Regions from separate parts of the Homo sapiens genome. Here region 1 is linked to region 2. A link means that fine-mapping ties the variant in region 2 to the expression of a gene that starts in the linked region. Tissue or cell type: tibial artery. Region 2 holds a variant in brackets; the other region holds the start of a gene. All regions are shown on one strand. Distances are from middle to middle.

Region 1 (8,106 bases), 680 kb after region 2:
CAAATTCAAGCCTATAATTCAGTAATAATCTTGTCAATTCATTTGTAAAATTACTATTCCAAAGCGATTGCCTTAAGCTAAGCTAAAAAACAGGTTCATCTATGGCAAGTGGTTAGATCCTGTGGATTTATTTATTTTTACTTGCGAATTAATACAGTAGCCCTGTAATACTGATCTACATTAGGAAATTATATAACTAGTGGAGCCTGAATTGACAAACAAAAACTTGGATATCGCTACAGATAGGATATGTAGAAGCTGTCTAACTGGCCTGATCTATTCTCTGGGCTGATATTTCAGTAATGCCTTTATTCTCTAATAATGGTGAGTCCCCCAGCACATGCTGCTATATAGATTAACCTAATTTCAAAGGCGGGGACTTGATTCCTTTTGTTCATCAAGAGTTTGCCCGCCTGCAAGACCCCAGCGCCTTTGTAGTCCCCACCCTCCTTCACTGCTCTCAACTTCTCCCCAGGCTCCTTGGATTCGCACCTCCCAGGCGACTGTTTGTTAGTTTGGGGTGTGTGTGTGTGTGTGTGTGCCCATGTGTGCACGCGCGCGCGACAGGGGCGGTACCTATCCCTCCAGGTATGCAAGGTCCACTCACCTTGACCTGACTCTCTGTCATCCCCAACGAATAGGCCAAACGAGCCCTCTCGGGCCCCGCCAAGTATTTTGTTTGTTCGAAAGTCTTCTCCAGGGCGAAGATCTGCTGTCCGGAAAAAGTGGGTCTCGTGTGTTTTCTCTTCCCGTCTTTGTCCAACAAAATGGATCCTTGATCTGTGAGAACCAATAAACAACGAGAGAGGGGGAAAAACAATCGGTTACAAGCGGCTGCACTAGGGGGAAAAAACGAACTCGAAAAACAATGTTTTGTGGGGAAAGAAAGCTCAGTCTGTGGCGGACACCAGAAGTGTAGTGGCGCTTCCAGACTAACGGCACGTCTCCCTTTGCTTTTTTACATCCACCTGTTTTTTAAAAGCCGCGTGTTTGGCGCAGCAGTAAATACCTTCTGCTCAACACCGACGTCAAACAGCTAGGGAGCCTATTGCTAAAGTTTGCCAGAGCCTAATCGCAAGGCCCCATTAAATTAACGACTGCCAGAAAAAGGCCACTCTCGCCTCCTAATCCAGTCGGTGCTCGTTCGGCCCCGGAGCCTTTAAGTGAGAATAACTAGATTTTTTTTTTTTTCCTTCAACGCTTCCCTAACCTGTGTCCAGGCAACAAAGGGGTCCTTGTTTTTGCACACAAGAGAGCTAAATCGCCCCCAAGTCTAACGTCGCTGCAGCCGAGGGGGAGAGGGGAAGGGGGAGGGGGCACAGCCTTTGTTGGCGGCCCCTAATACGGCCATCAAAACCGATACAATAGCGTCTCCCTGGCACCCCCACCAGGCCCGGCTGCCACAGTCCCCGGGCTTCCCAAGAGAACCTCCACTTGGCTTTCGCAACTTCCCGCAGTTACTGCCGCTCAGCCGCACTAAGGAGGTCCGGAGACTTGGAAGAAACTTCGGAGACTCGCTGAAAGGCGAAGAACTGAGCGAGAAAAGGACCCCAGGCTGGGCCCTGAAGTCCACCTGGAAGGCTGGGAGCCTCCGCGGCGCTGCGGCCTACTACCCCGAAGACTAGCGTGATCTTGGGGCAACTCAGTTTGCCTCAAGCAAGGTCTTTGCGGGATGGTACATTTTCCCCAGGCCGTGTCCCTTCATCTCACTCTTCTCCTGGCTCGCTCTTGTGTTAGGGTGTTGAGCTCCACGATGTCCCCAAATGTGCCCGGACGCAGCGTGTGCCAGCCCCCAGAGTGGAGGCAGGTGGGAAAGCGCGGGCCCAGCGCTGGTGAGCGGCTGGAAGCGCTCGCCCTGCCCTGGGGACGCTGGACTGTCTTCAATGGGCTCACCCAGGCCGAGTGTACTCGGGCGGCGAGGGCGAAGAGGTGAGGTGGGGACACCCCAGGCGGAGACGTGCATGCAAATACACTCACTTCCCGGGCGGTGGAGGGCTCACCGCTGCCGGGCCTCACTGCTTCGAAGAGAGGCAGCGGGTTAGGCTGGCGAAGGCGGAATGGGGCGCTGGACGACAGGGAGGAGCCGGGAAAGCAGAGATGCAGTGGCCTCTCCTCCCCTCTCCTCCCCATCTTTCTAATCCAGGCCAGGCCTGCGGTCCTGGCCAGGCCGTTTCAGGAACAGCCAGGGCCTCGGACGAGACACACGTCCCTCACCGCGTTGTGGTCCACACGAACACACACACACCGGCTCAGCCCAGGCGTACTCAAGACTTAGAGAGAGGGAGGCGCTTGGATACAGCCACGCGAGCTCAGAAAAGCGAGAATCCCTTTCTGGAAGCCCTGGCCCAACCTAACTGGTGTGATTCCGGCGCTGTCAAACTACTGGGGCGGGCCACAGGATGGACTGAGCGGCATGCACACCAGGGGCCGCGACCCGGGAGTGGGCAGAACAGGCACGGCAGGCAGGCATCGGGGCGCGGGTGGTAGTACTCACGAGGGGTACAGGCCAGGCGTGCGTCCCTCCAGGGCGGGCTCTGCATCACTCCGGGCCAGAAGATGGGCGTCCGGCCAGGCAGCTCAGCCAGCGGCTTGGGGTACCGGCCCACGGCGGCCACGGCCGCGGCGCTGGGGCTGAAGTAGAGCCCGGGCGGCGGCGGCGGCGGGCTCAGGCTGCTAAAGCGTGGCAGTCCGGCCAGCAGCCCCGCCGGGGATGAGGCGGCGGCTGCGGCCGCGGCAGCAGCCGCGGCGGCGGCAGAGGCGGAGGAGGCAGAGGCGGACGAGGAAGAGGAGGAGGAGGAACCGGAGGGCGAGGCGGAGGGCAGGGCGGCCCCCGAGGCCACGGGCATGGAGGGCCGGCTCAGGATATCGTTGATGCCGTGTGGGGTGGCGGCCGAGAGCTGCTGCGGGGGGCTGCCGAGGGATGAGAGCCCCCCCGTGGCCGGGGGCTTCAGGCCGCCTGGGTTGTGGGTGCCCAGAGGCGGGGAGGGCGACGAGGAGGACGACGACGAGGACGAGGAGGAGGGGGGGCCGGCAGGCAGCGGGGGATACGCGGCAGGGTACAGCGGGGTCTTCATCTCGGCCATGCTGTGCAGGGCGGCCAGGGGAGGGCTGCTGAGCAGGAATGCGCTCTGCCGGGTGCCCTCCATTGCCCCCACCGCTAACATCCCACGGCCACGCCGGAGACCGTAGCCTTGCAGCGAGGGCGCTGGCTGGTGCCCCCCGCGGGGCTCAGAGGAGCCGGAAGCGCCGAGGGCGCGAGCGGAGAGGCACTCGGCGCGCCCGGAGGCGAGCTGCCAACTGAACCAAAAATGCCGCTGCCGGGAGTTGCTCGCCTAGCTGCGCAGCAGAGATGTCCAAACCCTCCACGCGGGAGGCGGCAGCTCGCCGAGAAAAGCAGGCGTCCCGGCGGGCTAGGCAGTCCTTTCGTTCCGCGAGTCCTAGATTCGATCCCTGGCTATTCTCTCTTCCTCACTTTTCCTAGCTGTTCAAAGTGCGCTACTTCTCATCTTCTGCCCCCGGGAAATAAGCAAAACAAAACCCAGGCTGGCTCCGGAGAGTTTGTAGCAAAGTTAGTTGCCGAATCTCCACTTTGAAGTTGGAGGGTGGGGGTGGCTTGCTTTCTTTGGGGAGGTTCAAAGGACGCCTTGTGCAGCCCGTGGCGCTCCTCTGATCTTACTGGGATGCTCTGCTCTTTCGGTCGCGCGGCTGATTCGCATTCGACGCTCACTGTGCCCGGGGAGAAAGCGCATCCAGCCCGCGGGAGATCTAGCCTCTGTGCGGGCTTCCTCCGCCCACGCTGCCCCGGGCTGCTGCGCCAGAAAGGGCAGTGCCACGGATCCCCGCGGCTCCCAGGTCCTCACCTCCACCCGCCTTGCCCTCTGGCCCACGGGGCACTGGAGTTGCAATATTGAAAAGAAAAAGGGGGAGGAAAAACACAGAAAAACAAAAGACTAAGTGTGAAAAGTCTGACGGCTGGGTTTCGGCGCCGCTCGTCAGTCCACTTCTGCAAACGGGCCCGGCGACCCCCGCCCCACCCCCGCTCCCTCTCTCCCTCTCACTCTCAGCCTTTGACTCTCCTCTCTGGCATTTTCTTCGCGGCTTCCCAGGCTTCGGTCTTCTAAGTCCTGTCCTCTGGCCAAACTGACCCTCTCCGCGGCTCCTCCGCTCTTTCTCTCCTTTCCTCTCTCCCTCCGGGCCTGACAGTTCAGATGAAGCTCTCAAAGGTAATAAAACATTTGCATCACTCCCTACCCCTCTTTAGCTGGGGGACGAAAGGGAGGGGGAAGTGGGGGACCAAAATGAGAACTTTGAGGGACGTCACTCCGAGGCTGCGGGGGCCGGCGAGCCGGGCGCAGGCCGGGGGCGTAACCACCGTGTCCAATAGCTCGCCGCCTCGATCCTTGCGTCGCCCCTGGGGCTCGCCCACTCGGGGGCGCCGCACCCTCTGATTGGCTGAGGCGGGCCAGGCGTAGGGCCGCGCCCGCCTAGTCCCCTCCCGCTCCCTACTTCTTTCTCCTGTGGGCGGGGCCAGGAGGGGCGGGAGCTGGTGAGTGGTGCGGTTCCGCGCTGGGGCCAGTGGCCGCCTCAATTAATTGTGCTAAATAAAATGAGAAAGGGGAGGGGGAAGCAGAGACGAAGAGGGTATTACTTTTTAAAGAGAGGAATAATGAAAACTCAGCCCTTTTATGGAAAAGCAGTTCATATTCTTCCCTTGCTTCCCCACTAGCCCGCTCGCGTCATCCTATCCCCTTCCCCCACCAGCTCTGGAGGGCGCCTCACCTCGAACCAAGTCTGGTCCCTTGTAAAATGGAGCTAATGGAGCAGGCAGCCGGCGCAGCCCTGGCCTGGCTCCTTCTTTTGAAGGGATTAATTAAAGGCCATCTGGGCTCTCCCAGAATTGTGTAAATTAATTTGTTGCTCCTTAAGCCTTATAGATGTCCTTAATCCCCTTGTAGGCCAAAGGATCGTCCTCTTCCATCTTTCCACCTCCTGCTTTCCTTTTCTGTTCTTTCTCCTCCACTTTATTTTTTTTTTCATTCCCGAGTTCCCCCCCGCCCGTCGCTTCCCACCGCGTTCATTATCATTTATGGGTTACTCAATTCGCTGAAAACTGAATCCGTTTAATAGGAATATTTATCTGTCAGATGATGTTTATACCTGAGAACAGTGAGGGAGTTTTTTCCCTTAACTTTTCTCCCTTTGATTATTGTTGTTATTTCCTTTGGGTTTACATGGGGGTAGAATCATCAAAATTCAGGCGGAAACTTTAGATACAGAAGCATCTAGGTACACCCTGGGAACTGTAAGCTTTTGAAAACCCTCTCCAAAACTCTGGCGCCTACTCCCAATTCTAGAGTTGCTACGGGAGATGGAGATGTACCAGCTCCTGGACAGTGGTGGTGGGATGTCTATCTAGAGTTTAGGAGTTGAAGGGTGGCTTCCTTTACTCTCTAAATCTCTTCCATCTCTGGCTGATCTTTACGTTCCCGACAGGGTTGAACTGCGGGCTGGAGAAGGAAAACCCTTTGACAATTTTGAGAATTCAGCATGTTAAAGTAACACACCATTGGAAGGTGGTCGCTACAGCAAATTTGGATGAGATCATTAATTACAATTTTAATGAGCAGAAAACAGAAATAAACGCAATAAATGGCTCAAGAATAAAATTTGATCAGCACCACCGACGGATGGAGTTTAGCTATTGGTGTCAAAGCGCTCATTTGGGTCCAAGCACGAAAAGCCAGGAGGGCGTACTCCGCTTCGATAACCTTCGTTTACTAAGCACTAGTTTTTAAGGGTCAGCTTGAGTTTGAGTCTGAAACTGGGGGAAGGAAGGGTTATATTTGCCAGTTTTATTTCCTTCTAAGATAGAAGCAATGTTATTTGGTCCTCCTCTTCCTTTATCTTTCTTCATTAACTTCAAGACTGGTTTAAATCTATTATTTCATGGACTTTAGAATCTGACCTGGGGTAAGGTGAAGTCCTTCGTCAGCATGAATAGTGCTAAGGAGTCAAGCCAAGACTTGCTTCAGAAGAGAGCTGATGTGCGGACCTTCTGCATTTCCACGCGGGGATCCAGTGCTTGGGTCTAAACCCCAGCGCCCTGCCACCTCGGCCAGGAAGCTGCGGGAGGATGGTGGCAGGCATAGCCCGTCCTAGCCTTGAAACTGGGGGGCCTATGTCTCTGGCTTCGTTACAAACGAAACGTTTCTCGCCTTCGGACACTCCACCCTGGCGGTGGTACCCAACCTTCAGTCTCCACTCTGCGCCTGGCCCTCCAGCGACCTCCTCACATCCTCCAGGACACTGCATTCTCAAGGACTAGGTAGGAATTGGGAGGAAAAGAGGCCAGTCATCCCCAAAGATTCCAATGTTAAAGAGTGATCCCCTTTTTATCTCATGTAAATATTATGACTCGGAAGAGAGTTGAATATTTCCCTATTGAGAATGTTAGTATCTACTATTGGAGGCGGGGTTGCCAAAGAGAGACACGGGGGTGGGGGAGAGATTGAGACTGAGATTCAACTCAATCCAACTCAGGGTGAACTGTCTTGAGTAAATAGTTGCAACGCTTGGTGTAAGGATGTCTCCATCGTTCACTTTTACGTATCATTTGCATTGCCAAATTAAAATGGCAGCATTGTTCTTAATTATGACAATAAAAAATTCCGGATCCGTGTACCTTGATCCCTGGTAGTGAGGGGGTGAGCCCCGGGTGCTCGATCCCGCGTAGAGCAGCGTGTATTGCAGACGCACGCTGGGCAGCACGGGAAGGCAGGCCGGTGCCTCCTGCCAGGTGCTAGTTGTAGTGGATCTGCTGCCTGTCTACAGCTGGGAGCGGTGACAACGATGGAGCGTCCTCGGAGAGGGTGGGCTGCCCCCTGTCACTCCCGGGGGAAGATCGCCCTGCCCTCCGCTCTAACTGCGTGGTTGAAACCAGTTTCGGGACCCGAGTCCTGGTCCCGCTGACGCGGGAGGCTTGTTTCTGGTGGGGCAGTCTTAACGCATTGCCTTCAGATGCCTTTGAGAGTCAGGACTTGCTCTTTCTTGGGGATCCTCCGAAACCAGCATGCCTTCCTGCCCACGACCTAATAAAGTGGGACTTTTTCAAGTACCCCTTGGGAGTGGACGTGTAACACGTGGTCGCAAGGATCCCGGCGCATCTCTACGCAGTATATCTAATGGGGATGGGGGGGCTCTGTTTGAAAGCAAATGATTTGCATTTTAATTGAAAAATAAATGAAAGCGGTTTGGCAAATTCTGAGGTTGCAAAAAGGGTTTAAAGGGTGGCGGTGAGGAAGGTTCTGTGCTCCTCGACTTTGAGGCTGGAAACAACAGCATTTGTTTTCTGGTTACTGTTTTTAGCTTGCTGGCATTGTTGCCTAGTCTGTGCCGTCCACTTGACCTCTCTACCTGCAGTCTAACCCTTGACGCAGAAATGCCAAGCGCGTTTTGATACTTGTTTTAAGTTAAAAGAATAGCCACCAAATTCAAGGTAACTAACGGAAGGAATGCAAATGAACTCTCAGCTAAACGTACTAACATTCTGAAGGGAGGGATGATAACGGTTTTGCCCCAAATACAGTAATGTCAAATGTCGGGATACTCAAGTGTAGCAGCAGAAAGTCAATTTCTATTCTGCAGAAAAAAAGTGGGTGGGGTGGGGTCGGATGGGGAGAGGAATGAAGGGAATTATGTGTGTGTTTCAGTCCAAAAATCTCTCTAAAATGCAGTTGCTTGAAGTGTCTGGATGACTTCTTTAATAACTCCATTTCACCTGACGAATAGGGCCTGTTTGTGCTGAACCCGCGGGACAGCTGGGTTTAACTGAATGTCATAAAAGGATTGAGCTGATTGCTAGGTAGAAATACAAGGAAGAAGGAAGAATGTCCCCAAGCTTGAACCAACCTACCCTTGAGGAAGGATAGCAGGGCGAGGGGGAGAACGTGTCTGTCTTTCTTTGCTTCCTATAAACGCCGTAGAGTGGAAACTGCACCTTTGCCACAACTTCTGCTGCCCAGCACTTAAGGTAGAGATTTGGGAAGAATTGAAGCAGACAGCGTGGAAAAGCGCCGTAGGATCTTGCGTTCGGCGCTCTCCCAGTGG
Region 2 (8,106 bases):
ATCCATTAACAAATTATTGGGCCAGGCGTGGTGGCTCACACCTGTAATCCCAGCACTTTGGGATGCCAAGGTGGGTGGATCATGAGGTCAGGAGTTGAAGACTAGCCTGGCCAACATGGTGAAACCCTGTCTCTACTAAAAATACAAAAAATTAGCTGGGTGTGGTGGCACACGCCTGTAATTCCAGCTACTCAGGAGGCTGAGGCAGGAGAATTGCTTAAACCCAGGAGGTGGGAGGTTGCAGTGAGCTGAGATCATGCCATTGCACTCCAGCCTGGGCAACAGAGCAAGACTCTGTCTCGAAAAAAAAAATTATTGTAGCTGTATTTGTTTTTAGTACTTTATGTACCCCCATTAAAATATTAGAGTATTTTGAACTTAACTGTATTTTTATATTTACAGTGAGTTTTATATTTTCATATGCTTTCATGCTGTTAGTGTCTTCATTTAAACTTGAAGAAATCCCTTTAGCACTTCTTATAAGGCAGTTCTAGTGGTGATGCCCTCCCACAGCTTTTGTTTGCTTGGGAAAGTATTTTTCTTCTTTCATTTTTAAAGAACAGATTTGCTGGGTATAGTATTCTTGGTTGACTGATTTTGTTTTCCTAGCACTTTGAATATATCAGCCCATTATCTCTCTTTTTGCTGCACCCAGGAGCTGTAATCTCTCACTTGAATTTCTTAGCCCTTGTGATGATATACTAAGTGTGGATAGTTGTTTAATTTCATATTTCTGCAAGAGGACGAGTGCTAGAAATTCCTATTCTGTCATCTTGCTGATATCACTCTCATTCTGCTCACTTATAAAATAGATATAATAATATCTACCACATAGGATTATTATGAGTATTAATGAGGGAAAATGTATAAAACATCCAACACATAGTAAACCCTGTCTAAACATTTTACAAATATTATTTCCCTTTCCCTTTTCATTCTTGCGCTAGGCATTGGCCACTTATTATGTGAGCTACAGATAAAATGTCTATTGGGCATGCTCTTCCAATTGGTAAATTATTGTTAATTCATTTTAGTAACATGACAAGAGATTAACAGATAGATAAAATATATAGATGGTGTTACAGTGGTAGGATATCTAAATAAGAAACTTATTCAATAAAGACTACTCTAACTATAGTTATAAAAGGACTGCATCCAATTTGCCCTACCATTTTCTAGATGAAGAACCATTGTGGAACAGTAATTGATAAATCTCTAGGGGTTCCACAGCTTTGGTCACAGAGCCTTGGCCATTAGAGGCATATAATACATATTTATTTCTTCATTGATTCTAAGAAGAGGAAAGAAACAAGACATTGTGCATCTTGAATTTACATAAAAAATACATGTTTCAATTTTACTAATCAAATTATGGCAGGTCATTCATTTTTTATTTCTCCTGTAATTTTCTAGCACATTGATCTTTATTTAGACTAACCAGAACACTTAGATACAGACTAATCAAACTGTTCATCTGAGAATCTTGATGCACTTTATTTAATGTTAATTTTAAAATTTGAATTAAATTACCGAAGACTGAATCTGAGTATGATGAAGAAATTTATTCCATTGGTAACAATTTGCTTGATTTTATCAAGCTACTGAATACCTTAAAACTTTCCATGCAAGTGTTAAAATACAAGTAGGTAATTTAAAAAAGTTATCAGAGGAGTTCACTATTGACAATGAAGCTAAAACCATTTTGTCATTTACTTTTTAAAAATTAATATTTTGAGTAGTAACAAAATTGAATTTGGTGACTTCACTGACTAATATAGGTTTTTATGGTATATAATAGAAAGACATTGCTTCCAATTTTTAAAATTTATGTAAAAACATTTTAAGAAAAATTTTTACAATTTGTTCCTTCAGAGATCTAAATTAGCCTTGTGACTATTTTTCTAAGTGATAGAAAATTTGAATCTAAAAGTAGAAGCAAACAAACAAAACTTGTTGCAAACTTTTCCTATATGTTAGTAATTAATATGTAGTTTTTTCGAACCACCTGGTTCCATGCTGACTCTTCAGTGCTTGTTCTGTTCTCAAAAATTGACATTGGATTGACTGAATAAGTACTGAGTACTTAACTATATGTGAGTTTTGTTTCTATTTTTTTCATAAATCAAGTCATTTAAATTCACAGCAACACTGTAGGTATTTTACAGATGAGAAATCAATTGCAACTCACTTTAAGAATAGATAAACTTGGTGTTCAAGACCTTGAGATGTCAGCACCTGCATCCCTTTTTTCTTCTTGGGGTTTTGGGGGTGATTAACTGCTTGACATCTGTGAAGACAACTATTTCCTACTGACAAAATGGTTGACTGCTTAGAAAAAAAAACAGTTTGCTGCTGTGTTAAATTGGCCCTTCTCTTCCTTTATTTTATTCCTATGAATTGAGAGCCACTGTAGTAATGGAGCAGCAGGGATGGCAGGATATGGGGTCATGGCCTGCCTTGTCACTAATGGCCCTGCAACTTTACTCAGCCATCAACTCTTTCCTGTTGCTCTCCCAGGAAAGCAGCAGGCCCTGGAGTCTCAGCCTGGGAGAAAGGTGCAGAATGAAGCTTCATGCTGAGGAGGAAGATTAAGTTCTGAGTGGTGTTCATGCAGAGGGTTTAAATGGTGCCAATTTGGGATGGATTCACACTAGAAGTCTGCTAAATTCCACCTTCTCTTTTAATGAACACTGGTGATTACCTCTGAGTGCACCCCAGAGGCTGTTTCCCTTATGTCAAATACATGTGACTCCATCAAATATATGTGACTCCATCCATTGCTATCAGTTTTATTGTGGGCTCTTCACTCTGCCTCCCAAACTCTTCGTCTCTCTGAGCCACTTGCACCACTTGTGCTTGTGGTCTCAGATTCATGCTGCAATGCTTTAAAAATGCGAGAGCAAACGAAGGTTTAAACCTGGTGGGTAGGGAAAATCACTTAAACATCTTTTGACTTAAAAGGTACTATAACAACTTAAGTCATTATTATTCTCAAGGCCTAAAACAACCTCAATGCCACCATGCTGGGTAAAAGGCGTTCAAGTTCCCAGCATGGCTTTGCTGCCATCATTCAGTGCCACAGCCATGTGAAAAAACACCATAGATGGATGAGCTCTGTGGTGCGGTATTTCAGCCTTGCTTGCTTGATAATTGTCAGGCAGAGCTTTCCTCACTCCGTAAATAGAAAGCTGTTTATTTAAATTTTCTATAAAAAAGAGAACTGTGGGATTACCCATTGTTTCAAATCTCCCCCTGGCAAGTGAAAAACAAATGGAATCCGAATTAAGTTTTATATTATCATCACTGGAATTTGTGCAATTCTGTGTGAAAATGTTGGAAACTGAT[C/T]CCCATGGATGTTTTTGGCTCTAACTGTGTTGTAAAGGAAATAGTCAATTATTTTCTCATTAAATACAGTGTTAGATTTTTGTTCCATTTACTCTCAGAAGGTAGAGAAGCAACAGAAATGTAGTAGAGGCTCCCGGGAGATGAATATAAGGACACAGAACTCTTGCTGTCTTCATTTATTCCATTTACAGCAATAGATTCCTCACAGACCCTTATGGTGGGAATGAAACTGGAGCTATGTTAAGAGATAAATAGTGTTTTTATGAGGAAAGGTCAAGCAATATCAAGAAGAAAAAAATCAGAAATTAATTTTTTTTACCGTATGAATCATTTTTTTAAAGAGAATTTAAGCCTGAAAAAAATGCAACAGGTGAATTATATAGAAATGGCATTTATTCATTTATTCAATGAGCATTTATCCCCACTGTGTGTCAGGCACTAGTTTTGATTAGAAGATTCAATCTTTGACCTTAAGGAATATTCCCTCTGAATAGATGGACTTTAAATAAATAGCAAACAATTAGCACCCTGCATCTCTCCAGCTCCCCACCCCACCTCAGGCAAGACTAAAACTAAATAAATAGAATCAGGTCTTAAGAAGCCTTAACTTCTCTACCTGCAAGTTTTCACCTCTTTGCCCTCCTGTAACCTAAACCACATAGGTATTGACTTAAAATGTGCTATAAATGTTCCATTTCAAAACGATGCAACAGAGGCTTATTGCTCTGAGTGACTTGTCTCAAGAACCCCTTCAGTCCTTCACTTTGAGAACTCCTCAATACTGCTGTTAGCTGAAAAGGTGAACATTTCTTTTTTTTTTCTTTTATTTTATTTTAGGGTAGGACTCTAGAATCTGCTTTTTAAACTTTTGCTGTATTTATTTTATTTTATTTATTTTATTATACTTTAACTTCTGGATACATGTGCAGAACGTGCAGGTTTGTTACATAGGTATGCACGTGCCATGGTAGTTTGCTGCACCCATCAACTCGTCATCTACATTAGGTATTTCTTCTAATGCTACCCCTCCCCTAGCTCCCCCACCCGCAAACAGGCCCCAGTGTGTGATGTTCCCCTCCCTGGGTCCATGTGTTCTCATTGCTCGACTCCCACTTATGAGTGAGAACATGCGGTGTTTGGTTTTCTGTTCCTGTGATCTATGACAAACCTAACACGAACAAACAATGGGGAAAGGCTTCCCTATTTAATAAGTGGTGTTGGGAAAACTGGCTAGCCAGACACAGAAAACTGACACTTGATCCCTTCCTTACACCTTATACAAAAATTAACTCAAGATGGATTAAAGACTTAAATGTAAGACCTAAAACTATACAAACCACAGAAGAAAACTTAGGCAATACCATCCAGGACAAAGGGATGGGCAAAGACTTCATGACTAAAACATGAAAAGCAATGGCAACAAAAGCCAAAATTGACAAATGGGATCTAATTAAACTAAAGAGCTTCTGCAAGCAAAAGAAACTACCGTCAGAGGGAACAGGCAACCTACAGAATGGGAGAAAATTTTTGCAATCTATCCATCTGACAGAGGGCCAATATCCAGAATCTACAAGGAACAAATTTACGAGAAAAAACAACCCCATCAAAAAGTAGGCAAAGGATATAAACAGACACTTCTCAAAAGAAGACATTTATGCGGCCAAGAAACATGAAAATAAGCTCATCATTACTGGCCATTAGAGAAATGCAAATCAAAACCACAATGAGATACCATCTCACGCCAGTCAGATTAGTGATGATTAAAAAGTCAGGAAACAACAGATGCTGGAGAGGATGTGGAGAAATAGGAACACTTTTACACTGTTGGTGGGAGTGTAAATTAGTTCAACCATTGTGGAAGACAGTGTGGCAATTCCTCAAGGATCTAGAACCAGGAATACCATTTGACCCAGCAATCCCATTCCTGGGTATATACCCAATGGAATATAAATCATTCTACTATAAAGACACATGCACATGTATGTTTATTGCAGCACTGTTCACAATAGCAAAGACTTGGAACCAACCCAAATGCCCATCAATGATAGACTGGATAACGAAAATGTGACACATATACACCATGGAATACGATGCAGACATAAACAAGGATGAGCTCATGTCTTTTGCAGGGACATGGATGAAGCTGGAAACCATCATTCTCAACAAAAGGTGTACATTTCTATCTGTGGCTAGGCTTCGACCATGTTCTACCACATAATGCTGGGTTTTGATATCTTGAAAACTTTGGTTGACTCTCCTACTTTGTTTTGCTTGGCTCGTAATTCTAAAAAAAATATGACTTTATTCTTCACACCATCCCCTCCTTCCTGTTTTTACTTTCGTCGGGTTATGTTAGCATCAGCAATGCAGTTGGCTGATAGCAACAGAAAATCTACCAGTGGCTTAAAGATATGGGGTTTGTTTATTTTACACAATAAGAAGTTCTGGGGTAGGTTGCTTATGGCTAGTATGATACTTCAGTGATGCCATCAAGTACTAAGCCTTTTCCATATTTTGCTCTGTCATCCCTTCTGTGTATGTTTTTGTCCTCCAGCTTGTTGCCTCGTGGTTACGAGGTAGATGCTGCACCTCCAGACCAAACATCTGCATTCCGGTCAGAAAGTTGAGGAAGGAGGAAGAAGTTAAGGGCTATGTCAACTGAATTCATCCCCTCATTTCTATTTTTAAAAATCAGGAGATAGATTCTAGCTGTCCTAGAAGTCCCACCTAACAAACTCAAGTTTATATGTTGTTGGTCAGAACTGTGTTACATGGTCAATAAGTCAGGCTGGGACATCTGGGGATTGTGGGAGATGTTGGGTTGCCAACCAGTGGAGAAATGGCTATGTTGTGCTCTTAAATTCATTTGCAGTATTCAAAGTTTCAGGGGCAGCCTGTAGGGCAAATCTAAAAAAAGGTTAGAGAGGGCAAATTTGAATTAGTTTAATATTTGGCCTAAAATAATGTTAGATATTTTCCCATCAAAATGGTATTTTCTTATCTGATAAAATAAGTAATTTCCAAAAAGCATTAATACTTTTTTGGGGGAAAAACTTATTGGGACTTATCTTAGTCAGCTCAGGCTGCTATAACAGAATACCGCAGACTAGATGGCTTTGGTCCCTTCATCTTTTTTAAACAATTTATTTATTTTTTATTTATCTTTCATTTTACTTTAAGTTTTGTGATACATGTGCAGAATGTGCAGGTTTGTTACATAGGTATACATGGGCCATGGTGGTTTGCTGCACCTATCAACCCATCATCTAGGTTTTAGGCCCCGCATGCATTAGGTGTTTGTCCTAATGATCTTCCTCCCTTTGCCCCCATCCCCCAACAGGTCCTGGTGTGTGATGTTTCCCTCCTTGTGTCCATGTGTTCTTATTGTTCAACTCCCACTTATGAATGAGAACATGGGGAGTTTGGTTTTCTGTTCCTTTGTTAGTTTTGCTGAGAATGATGGCTTCCAGCTTTATCCATGTCCCTGCAAAGAACATGATCTCATTCTTTTTTATGACTGCATAGTATTCCATGGTGTATAAGTGCCTTAAAAAAGAGGGACTCCTCCCTAATTCATTTTATGAGTCCAGCATCATCCCAATACCAAAACCCGGCAGAGACACAACAAAAAAAGAAAACTTCAGACCAATATCTCTCATGAACATCCATGTGAAAATCTTCAATAAAATACTGGCAAATTGAATTCAGCAGCGTATGAAAAAGCTTATACACCACGATCAAGTTGGCTTCATCCCTGGGATGCAAGGCTGGTTCAACATACACAAACCAATAAACGTAATCCATTGTATGATCAGAACCAATGACAAAAACCACATGTTTATCTCAATAGATGCAGAAAAGGCCTTCGATAAAATTCAACCTTCATCTTTTTATAAAGGCATGAATCCCATCACTGGGACAACATCCTCATGACCTCATCTAAACCTACTTACTTCCCAAAGGCCTCACTTCCAAATACAATCCCACCGGGGTTTAGTGTACCTATACATGAAATTCTGGGGGACACAAACAGGCAGCCCATAACAGAACTTAAAAAAAAAATAGCAAGTGCTCTTGAAATTAAAAGAACATAAGGAAACATTCTCCAAGCTCCATCATAGATTCCCATAGGGACCAACTAAAAATAATGGAAGATGAATGTGAGGCAAGTGAGCTTAAAAAAACCTTGAGCACCAATTCCTGTTAGATATGCCTCAATTTCTTTAAGGCTGTAGGAGTTTGGGCTGTTGTAATTTTTTAGCATATAATTTTCATAGTGCTATCAATAATGTCTTTATATGCTTCTCATAAACAAAAAATATACATTTGCTGATGAAAGAAGCTGCTAATTTCTTCAAAATAAGACAGGAATCTCAACAATTTCCTTTTAACTGTTAAGCAACAATAAATCAACAAGGCTATCTAAATTCTATTTTTTTTTCATTATGCCAGATGCCTTAGTTATGGAAGTATTTTCTCAAAACTCAATTTGTCCTATTAAGTTTACAAATGGAAGATTTTTATAATGTGCATAGTATTTTTCTCTTCTCTTGTGTCTCAGTTTGCCTTTCTTTGGACCAAGAAAGGTGGTGCTTAAGACTCACAGAGATTACATTTGAGAGTGACATCTTCTTGGGCACTTCAATCCATCACATCAGAGAACCCAATTACCTTAGTAATCATTGACTAACTACTGATAAGAAAATCTTCAAAATGTTGTCCTTCCAAACCAAAGTCAAAGTACAAATAAAGCTTCCAACT

Direction of the effects. Alleles are on the strand shown, and positions count from the first base shown. SD is a standard deviation of normalised expression in the study named.
For the expression in tibial artery of the gene that starts at base 4,228 in region 1, T is the high allele of the variant in region 2 and C is the other (large effect, 1.8 SD a copy in GTEx).

Evidence for each region. PIP is the estimated chance that this variant, and not a neighbour inherited with it, causes the effect.
Region 1: NKX6-1 starts here. The variant in region 2 is fine-mapped to the expression of NKX6-1 in tibial artery (GTEx, PIP above 0.99).

Annotation. Positions count from the first base shown.
Region 1 is chr4:84,495,065-84,503,170 of GRCh38, forward strand. NKX6-1 (NK6 homeobox 1) reads right to left here and starts at 4,228. Exons shown (of 3, transcript NM_006168.3): 1 at 2,495-4,228; 2 at 608-780. The coding sequence starts at 3,164. RefSeq lists an enhancer at 556-1,056.
Region 2 is chr4:83,819,169-83,827,274 of GRCh38, forward strand. No RefSeq gene overlaps it. Among named protein-coding and RNA genes, the nearest start is that of GPAT3, 290 kb to the left of the region's middle. The variant C/T (reference allele first, on the strand shown) is at 3,346.